Homo sapiens: one gene and its partners. The protein of the gene in region 6 interacts with the protein of the main gene of each other region in a pairwise test. Each region holds a gene or a part of one and is shown on either strand. Other genes may lie near its edges. The genes, in order: ZNF474, KCTD21, ZNF263, SKIL, ZSCAN1, PPL and COL17A1.

Evidence for each region.
Region 1: the proteins of PPL (region 6) and ZNF474 interact in binary tests that used the Homo sapiens proteins (3 or more experiments, as listed by UniProt).
Region 2: the proteins of PPL (region 6) and KCTD21 interact in binary tests that used the Homo sapiens proteins (3 or more experiments, as listed by UniProt).
Region 3: the proteins of PPL (region 6) and ZNF263 interact in binary tests that used the Homo sapiens proteins (3 or more experiments, as listed by UniProt).
Region 4: the proteins of PPL (region 6) and SKIL interact in a two-hybrid assay, tested with the Homo sapiens proteins (one large-scale study listed by BioGRID and IntAct).
Region 5: the proteins of PPL (region 6) and ZSCAN1 interact in binary tests that used the Homo sapiens proteins (3 or more experiments, as listed by UniProt).
Region 7: the proteins of PPL (region 6) and COL17A1 interact in a two-hybrid assay, tested with the Homo sapiens proteins (one study listed by BioGRID).

What each region holds. Positions count from the first base shown.
Region 1 is NC_000005.10:122,146,546-122,150,045, reverse strand, and holds part of ZNF474 (zinc finger protein 474), read right to left. Parts: intron 723-3,500; exon of another isoform or gene 1-722.
Region 2 is NC_000011.10:78,175,127-78,178,626, reverse strand, and holds part of KCTD21 (BTB/POZ domain-containing protein KCTD21), read left to right. Parts: intron 1-641; exon of another isoform or gene 642-1,496; coding exon of another isoform or gene 1,497-1,575; intron 1,576-3,500. UniProt on the Homo sapiens protein: Probable substrate-specific adapter of a BCR (BTB-CUL3-RBX1) E3 ubiquitin-protein ligase complex mediating the ubiquitination and subsequent proteasomal degradation of target proteins. Promotes the ubiquitination of HDAC1.
Region 3 is NC_000016.10:3,286,491-3,289,225, forward strand, and holds part of ZNF263 (zinc finger protein 263), read left to right. Parts: intron 1-1,963; coding exon 1,964-2,080; intron 2,081-2,735. UniProt on the Homo sapiens protein: Transcription factor that binds to the consensus sequence 5'-TCCTCCC-3' and acts as a transcriptional repressor.
Region 4 is NC_000003.12:170,388,715-170,392,214, forward strand, and holds part of SKIL (ski-like protein), read left to right. Parts: intron 1-1,508; coding exon 1,509-1,750; intron 1,751-2,321; coding exon 2,322-2,546; intron 2,547-3,500. UniProt on the Homo sapiens protein: May have regulatory role in cell division or differentiation in response to extracellular signals.
Region 5 is NC_000019.10:58,037,025-58,040,524, forward strand, and holds part of ZSCAN1 (zinc finger and SCAN domain-containing protein 1), read left to right. Parts: intron 1-703; coding exon of another isoform or gene 704-812; coding exon 813-1,182; intron 1,183-3,425; coding exon 3,426-3,500. UniProt on the Homo sapiens protein: May be involved in transcriptional regulation.
Region 6 is NC_000016.10:4,930,649-4,934,148, reverse strand, and holds part of PPL (periplakin), read left to right. Parts: intron 1-3,500. UniProt on the Homo sapiens protein: Component of the cornified envelope of keratinocytes. May link the cornified envelope to desmosomes and intermediate filaments. May act as a localization signal in PKB/AKT-mediated signaling.
Region 7 is NC_000010.11:104,054,881-104,058,380, reverse strand, and holds part of COL17A1 (collagen alpha-1(XVII) chain), read left to right. Parts: intron 1-190; coding exon 191-235; intron 236-1,208; coding exon 1,209-1,406; intron 1,407-2,377; coding exon 2,378-2,599; intron 2,600-2,979; coding exon 2,980-3,009; intron 3,010-3,373; coding exon 3,374-3,400; intron 3,401-3,500. UniProt on the Homo sapiens protein: May play a role in the integrity of hemidesmosome and the attachment of basal keratinocytes to the underlying basement membrane. The 120 kDa linear IgA disease antigen is an anchoring filament component involved in dermal-epidermal cohesion.

The DNA of each region.
Region 1 (3,500 bases), on a different chromosome or scaffold from region 6:
ATGACTTAAGAAGACAGATTAGAAAAATCAATGCAATCAAATAAGCCTCCTTCCCCTAAATTGTCTCTGCCTCTCTTTCTCTCTCTCTGTCTCTTTCTCCCTCCCTCTCTCTCTCTCTCTCTCTCACGCGCGCACACACACACACACACACACACACACAGAGTCAATTCTGTTTCCAGCAGATTAGAATACTGAGAAATCCCCATGACTTTCCCCAGCAACCCCTCCATCTCCCTTTTGATAAGGCAAGAGAGGTAATATTTACTGAATGCCAATTATATGCCAGATAGGGCACAGATTTTTTGTAAACATAATTTTAGTTAATTCTCAAATGATTATGAAGCAGGTATTATTATTTCAACTTTATAAGTAAAGAAACTGACTCAGAAAAGACAAGTAATTTGCCCAAGACTGTCAGTTTCTAAATGACAGAACTGTGAATCAATTCCAGCTCTCTTTGGCTCCAATACGTGGCTCTTTCCATTATTCATTCTGCCTAAATTCCTCCAGCAGAGCTTCTTCCCTTTAGTTTTTATCCCTGTTTTAATGTATTATCCATATGCCTCAGGGGAAGGTAACTAAGCTCTCACCAGCTGTTATGCTTCCTTTTAGAAGAAAGAAGAGGCAAGAAGGAGGAGTGCAGACAAGGCACAGAGGAGAAGCCTCTGAGAGGGACAAAGCAGAAGAGAGAGACTGGGGCTATGGAACACAATGTTTTCAATGTTAAGTGACAGGGGACTTTTTTTCTTCAACTTTTATTATAGGTTCGGGGTACATGTGCAGGTTTGGTATATGGGCATATTGTGTAATGCTGAGGTTTGGAGTACACATGAATCTGTCTCCCAGGTAGTAAGCATAGTACCTAATAGGTAGTTTTTCAGCCCTTCCTCCGCTTGCATTCACTATCTGTTGTTCTCATCTTTATGCCCACGTGTACTTGACGTTTAGCTCCCACTTATAAGTGAGAACGTGTGGTATTTGGTTTTCTGTTTCTGCATTAAGAATCACTTTTTCCAGGCCGGGCGCGGTGGTTCATGCCTGTAATCCCAGCACTTTGGGAGGCCGAGGTGGGCGGATCACCTGAGGTCTGGAGTTTGAGACCAGCCTGGCCAGCATGGTGAATCCCCGTCTCTACTAGAAATACAAAAATTAGTTGGGTATGGTGGCTGTAATCCCAGCTACTCAGGAGGCTGAGACAGGAGAATCGCTTGAATCCGGGAGGCAGAGTTTGCAGAGAGCCAAGATCGCGCCATTGCACTCCAGCCTAGCTGACAAGAGTGAAACTCCATCTCAAAAGAAAAAAAAAAGAAAAAAAAGAATCACTTTTGCCATATACAGTTGTTTTCTAGATGTAGTTTTTCCTGAGTGATGTGCAGTACAGATTCTTTTCTTAATTTCACCAATATCTTCAGAAAAATCTACATAACCAGCAGAGGTAGGGACCAGTTGGGGGAATGGGGCAGACCAACGATGAATGATGTGTTTTGTCTGTCTTGATCATGGGCACAGGGTAAAAGTGAAGGCTGCCCCAAGAGGCCAGGTAGTGCTCAGTTTGAAGCCATGTCACCATTTGATTAGGGATAGATCTTACCGCACACAAACATTTGTGCACTGCAAATATTTTCTCTGCAGCAAACACGATGAAACATCACAAAACGTCCATTTGAATCTTCAACTTTTCTTTTTCTACCATCCCTTTCCTTCTCCAATGTTCTCCTGAAATTTTTCCCTTATTGTGACTAAAGGTATCAAAATATGAAAGATGAGGTAGCTGGAAGCCAGTGAAATTTTTGGGAACGGAGGTGTCTTATGGAGAAATGCGTAATGTTTCTGCCAGTGACTGTGCAAAGGCAACATGCCATGGCACAGCAGTGTTGGTTGCTCTCCCTTTATAAGTTAGCTCTAAAAGCAAAAGTGCTGGAAAATACTAAATGCATATACTTAAATCACATAAGAAATTGGCCTGTCACCCAAAACGTCATAAAGCAATGTTGCTAGTTTATAAAGAGAACCACTTTGCAAAGCCAGACAGTTTTACCTCAAGCATCTCTGGAGAAATGTTCACTCAGTTGGCCTGAATTATTCGTTTTGACCATATCTGCACATAGGACATTTACAGAATGTCCTGGAAGGCATCACCTTTTATCAACATGATGCCATTTTTCCATTCTCTTCAGGGTTCATGGGAAGGGAGAGACAAACACACAAAGAAGAATGTAATAACCGTGGAAATCCAAAAACCATCTTGGCATTAGAAGGTGTCTCTCTAAAAGAGAGGGAACAGAACACAATGAAAAGTGTGATCATATCTTTTAAAAAATAATCTAGTCCTTTGAGGATGAGTTCATGTCCTTTGCAGGGACATGGATAAAGCTGGAAACCATCATTCTGAGCAGACTGTCACAAGGACAGAAAGCCGAACACCTCATGTTCACACTCATAAGTGGGAACTGAACAATGAGAACACTTGGACACAGCACGGGGAACATCACACATGGGGGCCTGTTGTGGGGTGGGGGGATGGGGGAGGGATAGCATTAGGAGAAATACCTAATGTAAGTGATGATTTAATGGGTGGAGCAAACCAACATGGCACATGTATACCTATGTATCGAAACTGCACGTTGTGCACATTTACCCTAGAACTTAAAGTATATAAAAAAATCTAGCCCTTTGAAACAAAAGAAATATAGTTGATACATGATATGATCCCTTCTCTATTAGTATTGAATTCAAATTCTTTAAATGAACAAAAACATAAACAAGAAAGATGGAGTTGGGGCTGATGGTGGCTCTGATCAAGATTCTAAAATAGAGGAGGTTCATCTTCAATGTTGTTCACCCACCCCATTCAGCAGCCTCCACTCTCCAGCCTAGTATTCTTGTATGCTCACCAGTCCGTCTTACCTATGAAATCTTGCTTTCAAAAAGGAACTGATGGACTCATTTACACCAAGGCTTATAATTGATGAGATAATGTCCCTTCTAATGTCCGGCAGAGACAGTTAGTTCCTTACCAATAGCCATTCCACTCAACTCCCTCAATTAATAGAGCCCCAACTTTCAGCTGGGCACATCTACAAGCTCCTTTGTAGTTAGTGAAAATATTGTGTGGAACTTGTAAGAACAATTCTTGAAAAGGAAGAAGAGAACAATTGCTTCTCTTCCTTTCCTTCTTACTGATGCTTCGAAGATGGATGTGATGACTGGCGCTTTAGCAGCCAGTTGAGAACAGATTTCATTTATGTAACACTTGATATGACAGAGCAGAGGCCTGGATGGACTTGGGTCCCTGGTAATGCTGGAACCATCATAGAAGCCCTGGAGTGCCTTTCTTGGACTTTATTTACATAAGAAAAGTAAATTTTTATTTTTATTTTAGCCATTTTTAAGAGTCTGTTATTCACATGGAAACCTAATACTAATTGAGAGATATCTGTATTTTAATACTGGTGATTAGCACAATTCATCCTAATAATGTTATTTCAAATTTCAGATTT
Region 2 (3,500 bases), on a different chromosome or scaffold from region 6:
TCCAAGTGGAGGTGGCCAGGAGGCATCTGGGAACACATAGGGGACTGAGGCTCAGTGGTGTTAGTTCATTACTACCTGACTGCAAACCTCCGCCGACTCATGAAACTCCCCTCGTGTCATGTCATTTTGCCTTTTGTAGCAGGGCCGTGGATTTGTGATGATGGACACTGTGGCCCTGTGGCTAGAAAATAGGGGCTTAGACCAGGCACGGTGGCTCACGCCTGTAATCCCAGCACTTTGGGAGGCCGAGGCGGGCAGATCACAAAGTCAAGAGATCGAGACCATCCTGGCCAACATGGTGAAATCCCATCTCTACTAAAAATACAAAAATAAATTAGCCGGGCCTGGTGGCGTGCACCTGTAATTGCAGCTACCCGGGAGGCTGAGGCAGGAGTGTCGCTTGAATCTGGGAGGCAGAGGTTGCAGTGAGCTGAGATTGCGTCACTGCACTCTAGCCTGGCGACAGAGCGAGACTCCATCTCAAAAAAAAAAAAAGAAAAGAAGGGCTTAGAGGACTGAGCTCTGTGACTGGATAGGTAAGGGGAGATCACCACAGAGAGCACCCTAGACTCGGAGCAGGAGACCTGCCTGCTAGCCAGCCTCTGCCCTGACTGCCTGTGCAACTGTGCTGCTCTCCCCAGACAAATGACCGGGAGCCATGACGTCATCGGGGGCGCAGGAAAGCAGGTGCTCTGCTGCTTTTGCAAGCAGAGAAATAAGAGTTTGGGCACCTACCCAGGGGTCCCAGGGAATGCCCTGTGGCTCCTGACCTCCCCCGCCTGTAATGCTCTGAGCACTTCAGCAGTAATGCATGGAAGAGATAAGGGTCTGTGACCCATGGAACTGTCCAAGTCCTCTCTGACACCCGCTTCTTTTCCTGCCGTGAAGGTAAGCCACTTTATAGATCCTAGGCCTGAAACCCAATGTTGGGAGGGAGTGTTTGTTTTCAAGAAGAAAGAGAGACTGAAACTAGAACATGCACATTTCTATCCAGAAGAAAACAGTTGGAGTAGACTAGAGTCCTACAAAGAGGGCAACAGGGAAGAAGATTCTGGACTGAGTAAAGGGGACCCACTCCTGGGTCCACCTCCTGCCTGGGCCCTCTGGAGAGAGAATTGGCCAGATTCAGCCCTGAGTCACAGCACCCTCCCCAGTTGCTGCCTCACAGCCATCTCCACACCAGCAGCCATGCCCCCAGCGGCAGCTCGCCCACACCTCTGTGGGACCTCCCCACCGTCTCGCAGCCCATCTGCTCCAGGCTTCTACTGACGATTTCGTATTTCACATGGACTCATTTCTCCTCAGACACTCCAGATGGGGAATGCCTTTCTGCAATATCAAAGTGCCCCATTAGACTGGGGAGGAATCATGAGGGGACATACCCCTGCCCCTGCCACAGAGTCGAGCATGGCAGCTGAATATCTCTCACACTGGCATGGCCCCCATCCTCTGGAGAAAGGAGGCCTCAGTGCAGTCAGCCTCTTCAGGAGGCAGAAATGTTGAGAAGTTCTCGCCACCCCTGCTGGGTGACTTTGGGGAGGTGTCTCCTCAGACCTCTGTTTCTCCATCTGGACGGTAAGCATGCTTGAAAGGTTGGGTTTTTGTTTGTTTTTTGAGACCGGATCTCCCTCTGTCTGCCAGGCTGGAGTTCTGTGGCGTAATCACGGCTCACTGCAGCCTCAACCTCCCAGACTCAAGCGATCCTCCCACCTCAGCCTCCCAAGTAGTTGGGACTACAGGTGCTCGCCACCACACCCTGCTTTGTTGTTGTTGTTGTTGTTGTTGTTGTTGTTGTTGTAGAGACAGGATTTCGTCATGTTGGCCAGGCTGGCCTTGAACTCCTGAGCTCAAACGATCTGCCCACCTCGGCCTCCCAAAGTGCTGGAATTACAGGCATGAGCCACTGTGTCTGCCAGCCAGATAGTTTTTGATGTGCCAAGGTTCATTCCAGACCATCTCCCACATCTTCTACCTGTCTTGTCACTGTGCCTTTACTCTCTCATCTCCTCTACCAGCACAGGCTCTTCTGGGGGTAATACTGGGGCCAGTTCCTCTTGGCATCCCTACCTGCCATGTCAGGGAAGGATTGCTGAATCTGGTCCACAGGTTGGCTCTGGGGAAAGTATAGTGTTGGAAGCTGGAGCTGAGATCTCCTGTTTTCTAGAACATGTGGTGAAGGAGACTTGCCAGCCATAGATGCTGACAGCTGAGAGATTAGGGGGGCTTTGTTAAGGAGTGGATAGGGTGCCTTCAGGAGAGTGCTCTGACAGAGTCCTGCATTTGCACTGACCTTGCAGCCAGTTTCAGAGAAGCTTGGGGTGTTATGACAGCAAAGGACAGGCCACCAGGAGCCAAGAGCATCTTCATGGCAAGGCAAGTCAGCATGGGAGCAGTGAAAGTCTAGAAAGGATTGTCATTCACATGCACACGTATGTTTATTGCGGCACTATTCACAGTAGCAAAGACTTGGAACCAACCCAAATGTCCAACAATGATAGACTGGATTAAGAAAATGTGGCACATATACACCATGGAATACTATGCAGCCATAAAAAATGATGAGTTCATGTCCTTTGTAGGGACATGGATGAAATTGGAAATAATCATTCTCAGTAAAGACTACTGCAAGGACAAAAAACCAAACACCGCATGTTCTCACTCATAGGTGGGAATTGAACAATGAGAACACATGGACACAGGAAGGGGAACATCACACTCTGGGGACTGTTGTGGGGTAGGGGGAGGGGAGAGGGATAGCATTAGGAGATATACCTAATGCTAAATGACGAGTTAATGGGTGCAGCACACCAGCATGGCGCATGTATACATATGTAACTAACCTGCACATTGTGCACATGTACCCTAAAACTTTAATAATAATAAAATTTAAAAAAATTTAAAAAAAACAGGATTGTCATTTGCAGTCCGGACAGCTGAGTGACCCACTGTGGGCCTTGAAGATAGATGGAAATGACACTAATCATGGCCATTCATTGTCAAATCTTTGAGAGAGAATAATAATTAAATTCAGCAGTGTCACTGGTACAGAAGGAGGAGCACTGAGCCTGGAGTCATAAATCTCAAACCATTTGTTGAGTACTTAGAACCGATCTTTGGCTAGTAAGCATTTACACATTTTTCTTTCATATAAAAGGACCTGAGTTTGAATCCTGGCAAGGCACTTCACCTTTCTGAGCTTGAGGAATGAATCCTGGCACAGTTTTCCTCATCTGCACAACAGGAATGGATGATTATATTGTCTGTGTCAAAAGATGATACAACCTTTTTTTTTTTTTTTTTTTTGAGACAGAGTTTCACTCTTGTTGTCCAGGCTGGAGTGCAGTTGTTCAGTCCCGGCTCACTGCAACCTCCACCTCCTGAGTTCAAATGATTCTCCTGCCCCAGCCTCCTGAACAGCTGGGATTACAGGCACCCACCACCATGCCCAGCTAATTTTTGTATTTTTAGTAGAGATGGGGTTTCACCATGTTGGCCAGTCT
Region 3 (2,735 bases), 1.6 Mb from region 6:
AATTTTCAGATGCTTATTCTTATGAGCTCGCCAGTGTTTCCTGTGTTCCGTTAGTGTTTCTAGGCTCGTCCCCAAAGACAAAAATTTCAGGGGTAGTAGGATCAACATTCCAGCCTATCATCTCTCACAGCCCATAAAAATTCAGAAAGTGGGGAGGGTCTTGTGGAAATTTGGAAACAATGTATAGCTCCAAAGTAGGCCATATCATAAATTAAGATTTACCTATGTCTTGTACTGTACTCAGAGTTTTAAAATTATGCCTACGGAATATGACAGACTGACATATAGTTGGATTTAGGTGGAGGATATGCTTGTATTTATTGTACAATTCCCTCAACTTTTCTGTATGTATGAGAATTCTTTTAATAAAAAGTTGGGGAAGTCTTAACATAAAACAAGACTGTGTGTACATTATGATTATACCTATGTTGAAACACACCAGTAGAAAGACTCACTGGTGTGGTGGTGGTAGTCCCAGTTACTCAGGAGGCTGAGGGGAGAATCACCTGAGCCCAGTAGGTCAAGGCTGCAGTGAGCTATGATGATGCCACTGCACCTCAACCAGGTGACAGAGTGAGACTCTGTTTCAAAACAAACAAGACACACCGCACATTGTTTCCATATATCAGGTTTGCCTAAAAAGTATCACAACTGTACATTTGTTGACACTAATTCTGCAAACGCAATCTTGCTCACTGCAACCTCTGCCTCCCGGGTTCAAGTGATTCTCCTGCCTCAGCCTCCAGAGTAGCTGGGATTACAGGCATGCGCCACCACACCCGGCTAATTTTTTGTATTTTTAGTAGAGACAGGATTTCTCCATGTAGGTCAGGCTCATCTTGAATTCCCGACCTCAGGTGATCCACCCGCCTCCCAAAGTGCTGGAATTACAGGTGTGAGCCACCACACCCGGCCTTTTTTTTTTTTTTTTTTTTTTTTGAAGTGAGTCTCACTCTGTTGCCCAGGCTGCTCTGGAACTTCTGGGCTCAAGCAGTCTTCCTGCCTTAGTCAGGAAGTGTGCCACTGTACCAGTTTCCATATTACTTTTCACTGCTGTGATGTCCAAAGTTGAACATGGCCCTTTTAGTGAGAGATGCTAAATAGGAAAAGATCAGATTACAGCTTGTTGGAATTAAACTTCTGTTGGAGTCCATGTTTGCTGGAGGTGGAGGTTTTTGTTTTTCTTTTTGGCACAGCATAGAAATGGCACTTGTGGGTTTTAATCTCATGGTCCTCTTAGAGCCCTGGGTCCTTTTCTGATTGTCTATTATGTTATATTTTCTTTCCCTGGAGTTGTCCGGTCAAATTTAGTTCTATTTTGTATTTATATGTAGAGACAAGGCCCTTTTATGATATTAAATGGATTATTCAAGGAACTGACCATGTTCATTTTATAGTTATTTCAATTACAGTAGTGTACATTCTCATTGCAAAAAAAAACATTCCAAGTACCATGAATATTTAAAAAAAAAAAAAATTGGCCGGGCGCAGTGGCTCACACCTGTAATCCCAGCACTTTGGGAGGCCGAGGCAGGCAGATCACTTGAAGTCAGGAGTTCGAGACCAGCCTGGCCAACATGGTGAAACTCCATCTCTACTAAAAATACAAAAATTAGCCGGGTGTGGTGGTGCACGCCTGTAATCCCAGCTACTTGGGAGGCTGAGGCAGGAGAATCGCTTGAACCTAGGAGGCAGAGGTTGCAGTGAGCGGAGATCGTGCCACTGCACTCCAGCCTGGGCGACAGAGTGAGACTCTGTCTCAAAAAAAAAAAAAAAGTCTCCCTCCCCTAATTTCTTTCTCTAGAGGTATCCACTGGGAACAGTTTGTGTATATTCCAAGTAACTGCTGTCAGATTTATGGAGCATTCTGTATTTATCCACTGAGGGCAGGGAACAAGACTGTTTCCCTACCCTGGTAGAGGAAAGTGGCAGTACAGAAATCTGTTTCTTTCATTGTGAACAGAGTCTCACATTCCCAGTCAGGAGGTCCCAGGCACCCAGGTGGGACAAGGAGGAAAGCTATGGGATCCCAGTGTCCAGAGCTGCAAGGAGGGCCTGAGCCCCAGAGGCCCAGCTCCAGGTAAGGAATGAAGACAAGTGGCCTGCGCAGCAAGCAGCAAGGCTCTTGCAGTTAAGAGTGAGGCATTTTTTGGTTTTGTTTTGTTTTGTTTTGAGATGGAGTGGCACTCTTGTTGCCCAGGCTGGAGTGCAACAGTGCGATCTCGGCTCACTGCAAGCTCCGCCTCCCAGGTTCAAGCGGTTCTCCTGCCTCAGCCTCCCGAGTAGCTGGGATTACAGGCATGCGCCACCACGCCCAGCTAATTTTTTGTATTTTTAGTAGAGTCGGGGTTTCTCCATATTGGTCAGGCTGGTCTCCCTGACCTCAGGTGATCCACCCACCTCGGCCTCCCAAAGTGCTGGGATTTACAAGTGTGAGCCACCGCCCCCAGCAGAGTAAGGCATTTGAGGATTTGGGTGCAGGGCCGGCCCAGCACAGCTGCTAGAGAGGTACATTACGTCCTTTGACCCTGCCATTCTCCATCCCAGTGAGGCAAGTGAGGAACCCAGGGTGCAGAGTTCAAGGAGGCCCTTATTCTTGAGCTTACTTGTCCCACCCTACTCTCAGCCCTGCTCCATCCCACCCATTCCTGAAGGGCAGAATCGAGAGGCTCAGGTGGAAAGGAAAATTCTAAGACTGGTCTCGGCTCTGATTCCTTGACCAGTGGCCCGACCCT
Region 4 (3,500 bases), on a different chromosome or scaffold from region 6:
CCACCGCGCTTGGCCGTGTTAGTGTTCTTTGAAGCACAAAAGTTTTAAATGTTTATTACATCCAATTTATCTATTTTTTTCTTGTTTTAGGTATCATATCTAAGAAACTATTGCCTAATCCCAATTCCAAGAAATATTTATTTATGTATTTATTTATTTATTTATTTATTTTTGAGACAGAGTCTCACTCTGTTGCCCAGGCTGGAGTACAGTGGTGCCATCTCAGCTCACTGCAACCTCCACCTCCCGGGTTCAACCAATTTTTCTGTCTCAGCCTCCTGAGTAGCTGGGATTACAGGTGCGCGCCACCATGCCTGGCTAATTTTTTTTGTATTTTTAGTAGAGACAGAGTTTTACCATGTTGGTCAGGCTGGTGGTGAACTCCTGACCTCAGGTAATCCACCTGCCTCGGCCTCCCAAAGTGCTGGGATTATAGGCGTGAGCCACCACATCCAGCCAAGAAATTTATGTTTAAGGGTTGTAGCTCTTACATTTAGGTCTTTGATCAGTTTAGAGTTAATTTTTGTATACAGCATAAGGTCCAACCTTATTCTTTTGCATGTGGATATAGTTGTCCGTATGTTGAAAAGATTATTCTTTCCTTTTTTTTTTTTTTTGAGACGGAGTCTTGCTCTGTTGCCCAGGCTGGAGTGCAGTGGCGCTATCTCGGCTCACTGCAAGCTCCGCCTCCCAGGTTCACGCCATTCTTCTGCCTCAGCCTCCCGAGTAGCTGGGACTACAGGCGCCCGCCACCAAGCCTGGCAAATTTTTTGTATTTTTTAGTAGAGACAGGGTTTCACCATGTTAGCCAGGATGGTCTCAATCTCCTGACGTCGTGATCCGCCCTTCTCGGCCTCCCAAAGTGCTGGGATTACAGGCGTGAGCCACCGCGCCTGGCCAGAAAAGATTATTCTTTCCTGACTGAATTGCTTTGGCACCTTTGTCAACAACAATTGCCTTATAAAGTATGAGTTTTTTAAATTTCTGGACTCTGAATTCTGTTCTACTGATCTGTATGTCTATCTTTAAATCATGTCACACAGTCTTGATTTCTGTAGCTTTGTAGTAAGCTTTGAAATTGGGAATTGTGAGTCTTTCAACTTCGTTATTCTTTTTCAAGATTATTTTGCCTATTTTGGGTTTGTTGCATTTCCATATGGATTTTAGAAACTGCTTTTCAATTTCTGCAAAAAATCCAGTGGGGATTTTGATAGGGATTGCACTGATAAGTAGATCAATTTGGAGACTATTACTGTCTTAACAATATTAAGTCTTCCAATCCATGAATTTGGGATGTCTTTCCATGTATTTAGGTCTTAAATTTCTTTTAGTGATGTTTTGTAGTTTTCATTGTACTTGCACTGCTTTTGTTAAATTTATTCCTATTTTATTTGTTTTGGTCTAATTTATAAATGAAATGTTTTAAAAATTACATTTATGGATTGTTCTAGTGATTTTTTTAATGGAGTGATATTCATACTTTGTTACTTGATTTTTTTCTCTCCAAGATGCATCAATCTCAAATAATTCTACAAGTAAAAGGAAATCTGAGTCTGCCACTTGCAACTTAGTCAGAGACATAAACAAAGTGGGAATTGGCCTTGTTGCTGCCGCTTCATCTCCGCTTCTTGTGAAAGATGTCATTTGTGAGGATGATAAGGGAAAAATCATGGAAGAAGTAATGAGAACTTATTTAAAACAACAGGAAAAACTAAACTTGATTTTGCAAAAGAAGCAACAACTTCAGATGGTAAAATTGTTATCTAAATGATAGTCCATTATGAAAAGATACTTTTGTATATTGCTCTGTCGCCCAGGCTGGAGTGCAGTGGCGCAGTCTCAGCTCACTGAAACCTCCACCTCACAGGTTCAAGCAATTCTTCTGCCTTAGCCTTCCGAGTAGCTAGCATTACAGGCACGTGCCACCATGCCTGGCTAAATTTTGTATTCTTAGTAGAGATGGGGTTTCTCCATGCTGGCCAGGCTCGAACTTTTGACCTTGTGATCCACCAGCCTTGGCCTCCCAAAGTGCTGGGATTACAGGTGTGAGCCACTGCGCCCAGCCCCCCTGTATATTCTTAGTAAGAAAAGTCAAAACGAGATGCTACAAATGTACTTAAGATTATTGTTTTACACTGAAAAGCAATTTTAATATATTTTAAAATTTTTTGAGAAAATAGTTTTTTAAAATAATTACCTCTATATAGAACTGATAATGATAGCTGAATTTTAGGTATTTTCTGTGCTATGTTTTCCAGAACTGAAAATTTTAACATGGTGAAAATAAAGTAAAACTTGTATTGTGATTCTTTACATTACAGGAAGTAAAAATGTTGAGTAGTTCAAAATCTATGAAGGAACTCACTGAAGAACAGCAGAATTTACAGAAAGAGCTTGAATCTTTGCAGAATGAACATGCTCAAAGAATGGAAGAATTTTATGTTGAACAGAAAGACTTAGAGAAAAAATTGGAGCAGATAATGAAGCAAAAATGTACCTGTGACTCAAATTTAGAAAAAGACAAAGAGGCTGAATATGCAGGACAGGTAAGAATTACTGTTTGTATAATGGTGCCCTTTCAGCATGGAAATGGAAACTGTTACTTCTCTCTTTTTTTTTTTTGAGACAGAGACTGCTCTGTCGCCCAGGCTGGAGTGCAGTGGCACAATCTCAGCTCCCCACAACCTCTGCCTCCCGGGTTCAAGCAATTTTCCTGCCTCAGCCTCCTGATTGTAGCTGGGATTACAGGCGTGCGACACTATGCCCAGCTAAATTTTGTATTTTTTAGTAGAGACGGGGTTTCACCATGTTGGTCAGTCTGGTCTTGAACTCCTGACCTCATGATCTGCCCACCTCAGCCTCCCAAAATGCTGGGATTACAAGCATGAGCCACTGCACCCGGCCACCGTTACTTCTCTAATAAAGGAATTACTTTTTGTCAAGCTCAGTTTACTAAGCTAGATTTCAAAATAGATAATTCTGTTAAACATAGCTTTATGCTGTATTGTCCAAGATGATTATTTTGATGTTTGTTGCTTTTATTAGTTTAAATTTTTATCGGGTTACTGCAGTTTAGTTACCTAAATTGCTAATCTCTAGCCCTCTGAATATTATATGTTATATTATTTTAATGTAGTATATGAGCTTTCAAATCTACAAATTAACAAACAGGAACTGTTGCCTGTTATGTTCAAAAGCACTGGAGCAAAAATAAGCAATTCTCTTTTGTTAATAGAATCTCACAATTTAAGGAACATGAACAAATAACTAACATGAGCAGGCTGTGATGAGCGGTATAGTAAAGTATAGGGCATAATGAACATGAACATGCTGGATGTGTTCCTTCCTCTTGTTCCTTTGCTTTTTCTTAAATTTAGTGTCCTGTCAGATGTCAGATTAATAGTATTAGATGCTTAATGGATTTAGTATACATGAAATAGTTCGTTTTGTAAAAAGTAATTTGAAAATAGATATTTTCTATGATATGAGGATTAAATGGA
Region 5 (3,500 bases), on a different chromosome or scaffold from region 6:
CTTTTCAGAGTCTCCAGTCTCCCTTGCCCTCTTCCTGGTCTCCACCCCCAGCTTGGACCTGGTAGGAAAGTCAGGAAGACAGCAAAGATAACACCATGGGTAGACCTGCTGCTGGTGGTGGTGTCATCCATTATTATGTAGCCCACCTGGCTGCTTCCATTTAAATGGAATTTAAATTTAAAATTCAGTTCCTATTTCAGGTGCTCCTAGCCACACGTAGGTGGTTGCATGGGTAGAGAATCTTTACATCCCTGTAGGAACTTCACTGGGCAGTGCTGGCCACACCACGGGGCAGGCATTCTTGTTCCCGCAGCTCGTCAGTCAATGTGTGTTGAATGACTAAATGAGAGGGAGATAGACACTAAGTAAGGGGAAAAGTTGTGTTCAGAAAGTCATGGAGGTTATGAAGACAGTGCCATAAGGATGATGGCCAGGACATCTGCGAGGGGAGGAGCTGGGGTGGGAAGGGGAGGGGCTGGGGTGGGATGGCAGGTGCAAAGGTCCTGGGGCAGCCAGTGGCTTGAACTCAGTGCAAAGTAGCCTGTGAGAGGCATGTGGAAGATTAGGTCAGAAGGTGGGAAGAGGTCAGGTTGGTTCCTTGGGGTGCTGGAGGTCAGAACAAGGAAGTAAGGAGCCGAGGGGCATCCTGAGTACAGAGGGCCACCATCTGATGTGACCCCTCTGTCCCTGCCCCTCTCTGCAGGCCCCTGATTGCTGATTCTGTCCGCCTGCCACACCGGCTCTGTCCGGAGCCACTGGGACTCGGGATCCAGTCCACACACACCCCTCAGAGGGGCACTGTGGCCAGAGAAATGCTTCCACGGCCCAAAGCCCCTGCCTCCCCCAGACGCCCCCAGACCCCAACCCCGAGTGAGCAGGACGCAGACCCTGGGCCAGCAAGCCCCAGGGACACCGAAGCCCAGCGTCTGCGCTTCCGGCAGTTCCAGTACCACGTGGCGAGCGGGCCGCACCTCGCGCTGGGCCAGCTCTGGACGCTGTGCCGCCAGTGGCTGAGGCCCGAGGCGCGCTCCAAGGAGCAGATGCTGGAGCTGCTGGTGCTGGAGCAGTTCCTGGGCGCGCTGCCCAGCAAGATGCGGACCTGGGTGCAGTCACAGGGCCCCCGAAGCTGCAGGGAGGCCGCCAGCCTGGTGGAGGACCTCACACAGATGTGCCAGCAGGAAGGTGAGAGGCGCAGGCTTCCTGCCCCGGGCCGGGCCAGGGGGCCTGACGTCTCCGAGGACCGAACTGCCCTCCTTCCCGCCCACATCGCTCCCACCCCTGCCCGGCCCCTCCCGACCAGCAAACCTCTCCTGCCCCGCGGCTGTGTTTTTAATTATTTTTACATATAAATGTGCTGCACGCCTCATCTGCCTCGAATTTCTCACTCAGTCGGTGATTAAAGATCCCTCCATTTCCCATGCGTCCATCTGTCCTGTGGCTTTGTGTCTGCTGCTCCTCACGGCTGCTCTCTGGGAAGGACGCTGCCTCGCCACTTCCTCCCAGCCACCTGCAGCGCCTCCTGCAACACTCAGGAATCCTAGAGATCCTTAAGCCTTCACAGGGCGCAGGCCCCATCGCTGGCTGATGGTGGGGAGAGACGCTTAGGTCTGCATCCCGACTCTGGGAGCTGGGAAATTTGGGGTTGAAACTGGGCTCCCTCCCTGTCTCCTCTCTCAGCTCCCCTCTCCCCTGACAGGGCTTTGTCCTTCTGCATCTTTGCCCCTGTGACCCCACGTCGAGATTCCATCCACCCAGGGCCCAGTCCCATGAGTGGGGCTCTTTCTTTCCTAGTGACAAAAGTGCAGGGATTGGACACTGGGAGGCCAAAAGAGGCAGCCACGGATGGTGAGAGCAGTCGTGGCACTGTGGCCTCGGGAGGGCTTCCCCAGCAGGGCCCCAGCAAGGAGGGTGCCAGGCAGCCACGCTGCAGGAGCAAAGGCTGGGAGTGAGAAGGGTTGCATCAGAGCTCACAGAAAAGAGGGGTGGAGCAAGGGAGAGGAACAGGCCCTCCCTTTGCACCCTCCCACTACAGCATTTCCGTAGACCAACAGTGATAAGCAGTTTGCAGAACACAGGGTCCAGGGTCCCCTTACTGCCCCAGGGCAGCCGGTGCCACACTTAGGAAAGCTGTGACAGCTGAGCTTTCCAGAGGCTCAAGGGTAGCCCTGTAAGCTGCAAGGCAGAAGCCAGATGAATTGGCCCTTTGAACTCTCTGATCCTGGGGTAGAGGGCCCAAGAGCACTGGCTTCTGGCGCTCTGTGGACCTCACAGCCATCCCAGCCCAGAGCCACCCTTGCTAGTTTTAATGTTCCATGGTCACTCTCAAAATTCAACGTTTTTGAGCAAAGGGCTCTCTATCTGTCTTCCATAGCGGTGGTCTGCTTTCTACATTCCATATTTTGAGCCTATGAAACAGTAGAGCAAGTATAATGAACAGCCCTGCACCGGCCACCCACCCTTATCAAAGCCCAACCTAGGAAATGCTTTGTAATCTCAGCACTTTGGGAGGCCAAGGCAGGCGGATCACAAGGCAGGAGTTCGAGACTAGCCTGGCCAACATGGTGAAACTCCGTCTCTACTAAAAATACAAAAATTAGCCGGGCGTGGTGGCGCGTGCCTATATTATATCCCAGCTACTCAGGAAGCTGAGGCAGGAGAATCGCTTGAACCCAGGAGGCGGAGCTTGCAGTGAGCCAAGATCACGCCACTGCACTGCAGCCTGGGCGACAGAGCGAGACTCCGTCTCAAAAAAAAAAAAAAAAAAAAAAGGAACAACCAGTGGAATCAGCTGAACCCCCATGCACGTCTCCTAGTCCTGTTGTCCCCCGCTCTGCCTGACACCCCAGAGGTGGCCGTGATCTTGAATTTTTCTTTTTTTAATTAAAAAATAAATAGGGGGGGGTCTTGCTGTGTTGCCCAGGCTGCTCTCAAACTCTTGGGCTCAAGCAGTCCTCCTGCCTCAGCCTCCCAAAGTGCTGGGATTACTGGTGTGAGCCACCACGCCTGGCCTGGTTCCCACGTCTTGACCCTTCTGTCAATGGTGTCCTGAACCCTGCTTCAGCAGTCGTCCTCTGTGCACTCTGTGCACACAGCCCCGGGGGGCTTGGGGAGCAGAGGGCTCACAGTGCTCGGGCCTCCCTAGTTAGTCAGTGCTGCAGTGTGTGTCCTCGTGGGCTTCTGGAGGCGCACAGGGGTGTGGAGTATGAGTGAAGAGGGTACTTGTCTTCAGCGGCCCTCGGTGTCACCACAGGTTCCTGCCCAGCAGCCACATGGAGGGACAGAATGACAGCCCTGCAGCCACTCTTGCCTGCGCCTCAGGGGTGCTGCAGGGATGTTCGGGGAAAGTCTGCCCTCCCCAGAAGGCCTGGAGAATTGGGGGCTCTGGGAAGAACAGGCCCCTCTCACGATCCCTTTCTCCCGCACAGTTCTGGTATCTCTGGACTCGGTCGAACCCCAGGACTGGAGTTTCGGTGAGGAGGAAGATGGGAAGAGTCCAAGGT
Region 6 (3,500 bases):
GATGGTGCAGGTGACCGAGGACAGCCTCCAGCCTAGTAGAGAGGCCCTGGAGGAGACCCGCTGCCACCCTCCTGGCTGTGCGACCTCAGAGGAGCTGCTTGGCTTCTCTGAGCCTGTTTTCTCACCTGTGGGATGGGAATAAGCACGGTGCCTGCCTGGCGATGTTGGCTCAGGATTAAATGAAATAATGCAGGGGAAAGGTTGTGAATGATAAGCGGCCGCAGGTAATAGCATCTGTGACGATTACAGTTATTAAGCAAATGCGGGCAAGCTAGCTGTGGTGTACCCAGGGTTAAACTTGATATCATGGTGGACAGGCTGTGCACTGCACAATTCCATAGGCACTGTTGCTGGGTTTTAGCACGTGGTCGTGGAGGAGACGTGGACAACCTCCCTGCACTTGAGTCGCTGGCAGTCACATCACAGAGATAAGATGGAGTTAAGCTTCAGTACATGTATGGTTACATGAGCGTCGGACTGATGGGGCCAGGCAGGAGCAATGGAGCATAGAGCCGGACAGATGAGGTCTCCACCCTGGCCACTCACATACTTTGTGACAGGCCTCAAGTGAGAGTTGTCACAGTCAGAGCACAGATGCTGGGAGGTGAGGGAGGACTTCACAGAGGAGGCATCTGACCTGTCACGGGGTGGGATGGAGTGGCCAAGACCCAGCTCTGCAGTCAGGCTCAATTCTGCCTCTGCTTGAAAAGAAACATAGCATCCCTGAGCCCCAGCGCTTCTGAATTTGTTGAATGGGATTAATCTTGCCCCTCCACCCAGACCTGGGTCCCAGTAAACACCCAGCAGCCTGGCCTTGCCTAGACGGGTCTTGCAACACTGGGGCCGCCCTGATGGAGCGCTCCTGCATGGGAGGCAGGACCCCAGGCTTTGAGGGGAGAGCTGGCAAAAGGGAAGCATGCTCTACTGGGAGGCACCTGGGGTACCCTGAGCCTCTTAGTGGTTAAGAACACAGTGTTTTATTAGCTGGGCATGGGGGTGGGTGCCTGTAGTCCCAGCTACTCAGGAGGCTGAAGCAGGAGAATCCCTTGAACCTGGGAGGCAGAGGTTGCAGTGAGCTGAGATTGTGCTACTGCACTCCAGCCTGGGTAAAAGAGTGAGACTCTGTCTCAAAAAGAAAAAAAAAAAAGCAAGAACACAGTGTTTGATGCTAGCTGGGCATGAGTTCAGGCCGCAGCTCTGGGTCTCTTAAGCTGTTTGATCTTGGGCAAGTCACTTAATGTCTCCGAGCCTCAGTTTCTTCATCTATGAGGTGGGGTGACAACAGCAACCCCCAGTTGGTGAGGCTGCTGGGTAGATCAAATGAGGGGATGCACATGATGGGTCCAGCCCATGACCTGGTTCAGAGCGAGTGCCCGGCAAATCATAGCAGCCAATACTAGGAAGCACACACTGCTATTAAGAGTCATGACGGGCTGGGCGCGGTAGCTCACGCCTGTAATCCCAGCACTCTGAGAGGGTAAGGCGGACGGATCACTTGAGGTCAGGAGTTCAAGACCAGCCTGGCCAACATGGTGAAATCCCATCTCTACAAAAATAAATATTAAAAATTAGCTGGGTGTGGTGGCGGAAACCTGTAATCCCAGCCAGATACTGGGGAGGCTGAGGCAGGAGAATCACTTGAACCTGGGAGGCAGAGATTGCAGTGAGCCGAGATCACACCACTGCACTCCAGCCTGGGAGACAGAGCGAGACTCCGTCTCAAAAAAAAAAAAAAAAGATTCATGACTGAGCCAAGCCCAGAGCTGACCAGGGAGCTGACTCAAGCAGACACGCACATGCACCCATCGATCAGTGTTGGTAGGAACGCCTGATCGATATGGGAGGGGACCCATGTGGGTAACAGCTTAGAGAGAGCCGCCCCGCCATTTCTCAGGCACATACTGTGAGCCCAGCAAGGCCATGGATGTTACATCTCATTCTGACAGCGGGCCTGCCATGCAGGTGGAAGTGTCCTGTTTCACAGAGGGCTCACATTCACCTTGAGCTCACAGCTCACAAATGGCTGATGCTGGAAGTCCAGGGGGGCCTGGGGAAGCAAATGAGGCCTCCCCACTCGTACCTGGATCTGGCAGCAACTGTGCCTGGGGACTGCTCCAGGCCAAATGGTAGAGTCATTGGTGTTTGTGCTCACTGCCTCTACCCCCAGCAACCCCCTCTACCTCTCTTCTCTCTAGCTTTGCCCCTCCATCCCTTGCCCAGTTCTCTTGGAAGAAGGAATGAGACTGGATAAATTCGATTCAGGACAGAGCTGAGCTTACCTGGAGGAACAGCTGCTAATGGTAGCATTTCAGGCACTGTCGGGCGGATCATGTTGGGAAAGGGTATTTTGGGGGAGAGACTCAGCTCCGTCCACACCCTTTAAGCAATACCCTAAGGGTGTGGTTGGGGGAGGCCCTGGAAGTAGGGGACCTGGGGGAGAAGCTGCTTTAGAGAGCTTCCAAAGCTCCTCGTCTGGGGAAGAGAACCCTGGCTTCCCAGCGTGCAGCTGCTCTCTGCTCCCGGCAGGTCTGTGCCGGTGTTACCGGCACCACCTTGCATCCTCCCAGCCTGCCTGCCCCGGCCTGTCTTGGGAGCGAATGGGGAAACGGCCTCTGGTCTTTGTTCTCCCGGCTTCTGATGGGTTGCTGTGCTGCAGCCTCTGGAGCCCGGGAGGCCACCTGGTGCCCCTTTCTGCCTCCGGGTGGGACAAAGCTCTCTTCAGGTCCCAGCCCTGCCCTTCCCTACCCCAACCTATTTTTTTTAAGTGTTCTTTCTTTATTCTTTAGAGACAGGCTGTCACTGTATCACCCAGATTGGAGTGCAGTGGTGCGATCATAGCTCACTGTAGCCTTGAACTGCTGGGCTCAAGCAATCCTCATGCCTCAGCCTCCCAAGAAGCTGGGACTACAGGTGTGCACACCACCGTGCCCCGCTAATTTTTAATATTTGTAGAGATGGGGTCTCACTATATTGCCCACTCTGGTCCTGAACTCCTGGGCTCAAGTGAGCCTCTTGCCTTAGCCTCCCAAAGCACTGAGATTACAGCCATGAGCCACTGCACGCAGGCCCTTTCCCTTTAAATGGATCCCCACTTCTCCCTGCCTGCAGAGCCAGCAGCCCAGCAGGCCTCCAGTCCCTCTTCACTGTTCCTTCTTCCACTCCAGCGCTCCAGTCCCTTCTCCCCATGGCAGCCAGGGAGCTCCTTACGACATAAATCTGACCATACCTCCAGCTGCTTAACCCCTGCCCCAGACCTCTCTTTGCTCTTAGGCCCTGGGAGCTGGTGCCCTGCACATCAACATGTGCCTGTCACCGTCTTGTTTCCACGCTGTGCCCGGCCACAAGGCCTTTCCCTCTGCCATTCCTGTTGCCCAGAATGCCCCTCCCACCCCTTTTCACTGCTTCTCTTCCACTTCCAGGTTTACCTTCTGTTCCTCAGGGAAGCCTTCCCCAACCTCTCTGCTGGGGTAGATCCACCTATTCTATGGACTCCCCTTCTC
Region 7 (3,500 bases), on a different chromosome or scaffold from region 6:
CAAGCCATGTCTTCATGGATGTAATTATCGCAAATATCAGATTAGTGAGGACTGAGATGCTGGATGTTCCTGCACGTCGTTGAAAGCAAGTTTATTAAGAAAGTAAAGGAATAAAAAAATGGCTACTCCATAGGCAGAGCAGCTAGCTCCTCCAGTTTAAAAGCTCAGGTCAATCTGTTTGTCCTTTCAGGAGACCTGAAGACTGTGTCCACAAAGGGCAAGACCACCACTGCAGGTGGGTGAGAACCGCGAACCCTGCAGTGACAGGATCCAGTGGGGCTGCTTATGGCTAATGGACCAGATGATGGTCCCTCGCCTGGAAGCAGTGCAGTGCACAGAAGCCACCAGACTCTAAAGAGTTTCCCTAAAGGCTCAGAAGGGAGCAGGGTGGGGGTCAGGGGAGTGGCAGGCTGTGGGTCAGAGGTGGCCGCAGAAGGAGCTTAGCTCAGGGGATGAAGCTAACAGGCCCCCCGCCCCCAGCTGCCCCTAATTAACACTTGTTAGTTAGGTTGTCTCCTAACACAACAGGGTGACTGTGTCTTTACACAGCAGCTCAAGAAGAGACTAAGCCATGCACGCCTCCAGCCCCTTAGCCTTTCCTCATTTCCTTCCACCGCCGTGTGATAGAAGCAGGTCAAGTCCTACCACCCCATTTTAGGGAACTAAAAACACTTTTCATTACAAAAAACATTGTTTTAATTCACTAGGCACCCCTGAAGAGCTGAGTATAATTCTAGGCACTGTAAGGATTAAAGAAAGCACTGTGTGAACTGAGGCATGGAGATGGGAACGCTCTAGGTTTGGGCCCAGTCAGATGCAGACCAATGCTATATTCAAAATAAAGATGTTTAAGCCTCGTGCTGTGCTGCTAACTCCTCTACTATTTTACATTCCTTGTCCTATTTCATTCAACAACCTTCCCAAGAAGGAGGCAATCTTTTAACCCCATGTTATAAAAACGGAAACAAAGGTGAAGTGACCTTCTCAGGTTCACACAGCTGGAGCCAGGATTGCCAGACTTCTGGTCAGCACCAGTCAGGCCCTGTGCTCAGTCCAGGAGCCAGCCCTGTCCTGGGTGGAACAGCACAGGAACTTGAAAGCCCCCAGTCGTAGTCACTCAGGCCAGAAAGTCACCAAAAGTCAGAGAATCTGGAGGGAAAAGGCAGGAGCTGCCTGCATTTGCTTCATTTTCCCTGTCTCTTTCACAGATATCCACAGCTACGGCAGCAGTGGTGGTGGTGGCAGTGGAGGAGGTGGCGGTGTTGGTGGCGCTGGCGGCGGCCCTTGGGGACCAGCGCCAGCCTGGTGCCCCTGCGGCTCCTGCTGCAGCTGGTGGAAGTGGCTGCTGGGCCTGCTGCTCACCTGGCTGCTACTCCTGGGGCTGCTCTTCGGCCTCATTGCTCTGGGTACGTGGCAAAGGCAGCAGGGCAGCCTGTGTGGTAGGAGGCAGGCCAGCCCCACTGCCTGTCAGAAGGGCAGGAATCTGTGAATGGGCCCACGTGTTAGGGGGCGAGGGGACCTGAATGCATTGGTGCAGACCCTTGTTACCGCAGATGAGTAAACTGAGGCCCCAGGAGGTACCTGGCCAAGGACATGCTGCCACTTAGTGGTGGAGCTGAATTTGGATGCAGCGCCTGATGCTCAGCCCCACCCTTGCTACACCTGTAGGCCCTGGTCTAAGCACCTGGCTGCCCTTGGTAACAAGGTCAGGACTTTCTTAGCCTTTTTGACTTTTGCTGTTTCCAAGCAGCCATATCTATTTCTTTTCTTTCTTTTCTTTTTCTTTCTTTTTTTTTTTTGAGACGGCGTCTCGTTCTGTCGCCCAGGCTGGAGTGCAGTGGTGCAATCTCGGCTCACTGCAACCTCCGCCTCCTGAGTTCAAGCGATTCTCCTGCCTCAGCCTCCTGAGTAGCTGGGACTACAGGCGCATGTCACCACACCTGGCTAATTTTTTGTATTTTTAGTAGAGATGGGGTTTCACTGTGTTAGCCAGGATGGTCTCGATTTCCTGACCCCGTGATCTGCCCCCCTTGGCCTCCCAAAGTGCTGGGATTACAGGCTTGAGCCACCGCGCCTGGCCAGCCATATCTATTTCTATCAGCTCTCACACCACCTCACAGGGAGAGTGAGGACAAGCTTTGTCACCCAGCTCAGATGAGAAGACTGACTCCCAGGCCAGGTTTCTTTAAGGCTCTGCTGTGATGCTGAGCAGCTAATCCTGCTGGTGGCCACGGCAGATTATCTCTGCATGAGTATTCTAGCATGAAGAAGCCACCACAGGCCCCAATCCCTTGTGTCAGGCTCTCCACTAGGAGCGAGTGTATGGAAGGCGAAGGACCGGGCCCTCAGTGACGCAGTGTGTGTCTGTTTGTTGCAGCGGAGGAGGTGAGGAAGCTGAAGGCGCGTGTGGATGAGCTGGAGAGGATCAGGAGGAGCATACTGCCCTATGGGGACAGCATGGATAGAATAGAAAAGGACCGCCTCCAGGGCATGGCACCCGCGGCGGGAGCAGACCTGGACAAAATTGGGCTGCACAGTGACAGCCAGGAGGAGCTCTGGATGTTCGTGAGGAAGAAGCTAATGATGGAACAGGAAAATGGTGAGAGCATCGCCGGGCACAGGGCCAGCTCCCCTGAGTCCCTTTCTTCTTTGCATCTATGTGGTATGTGTGCATGTGCTGTGAGCACCATCATCCGGCCCACTCTCGGCCTCTCTCCTCCCCTGATCCTCTCAATAGCGCTGAGAGGTAGGTGGGACCAAGACTGTGGTCCCACTTTACTCCTGGAAAAACTGAGTTCTGGAAAGAATAATTGCTCAAGATCACTGGACTAGCCAAATTTAGAATCTGATCTCTAGTCTTTGCCTCAGTTTCTTCTTCCCATACCATGATCCCCTTATTGTGTGTGTGTGTGTGTGTGTGTGTGTGTGTGTGTGTGACAGGAGATGTGAAGCTGACTCAGGATTTGCTTTTTCTTGCAGGAAATCTCCGAGGAAGCCCTGGCCCTAAAGGTATTGCCATGGATTGAACCTTGTCTCTGATTCATTTCCTGCAGTTGGAAGTGAGTTTTCTGGGTAGATTAGAAGCCTTTTTCTTTGTTCTAAATGGAAGGATGAAGAGCTGAATGATCTTATGGTATCTGTTGGGAGGTATCTGTTGGTTTTAGAGTCAGAATATCTTAGATAAGGCAGCATCTAAGAGAAGCCCAGCAATGAGCCCAAATGACATAGACTCTGGGACTGGGAGGGACTCGCCGCATGTCGCCTCACCTTGAAATACAGTTTACATCTTGTCAAATGGTTTTAAAATACAAGGCAGAGTATGGCCTTTGGGTTCTTGCCCCATCTCACAGTTTTCATATCTTTCTGGTTTCAGGTGACATGGGAAGTCCAGGCCCTAAAGGTAATTATAACATGGGCATTTTTACCTTAAATATTAGCAAGTGTTAATTGTTTCAAACAATCAGCAAGTGTCAGAAAACCCACCTTGCACTCCAAGAAGT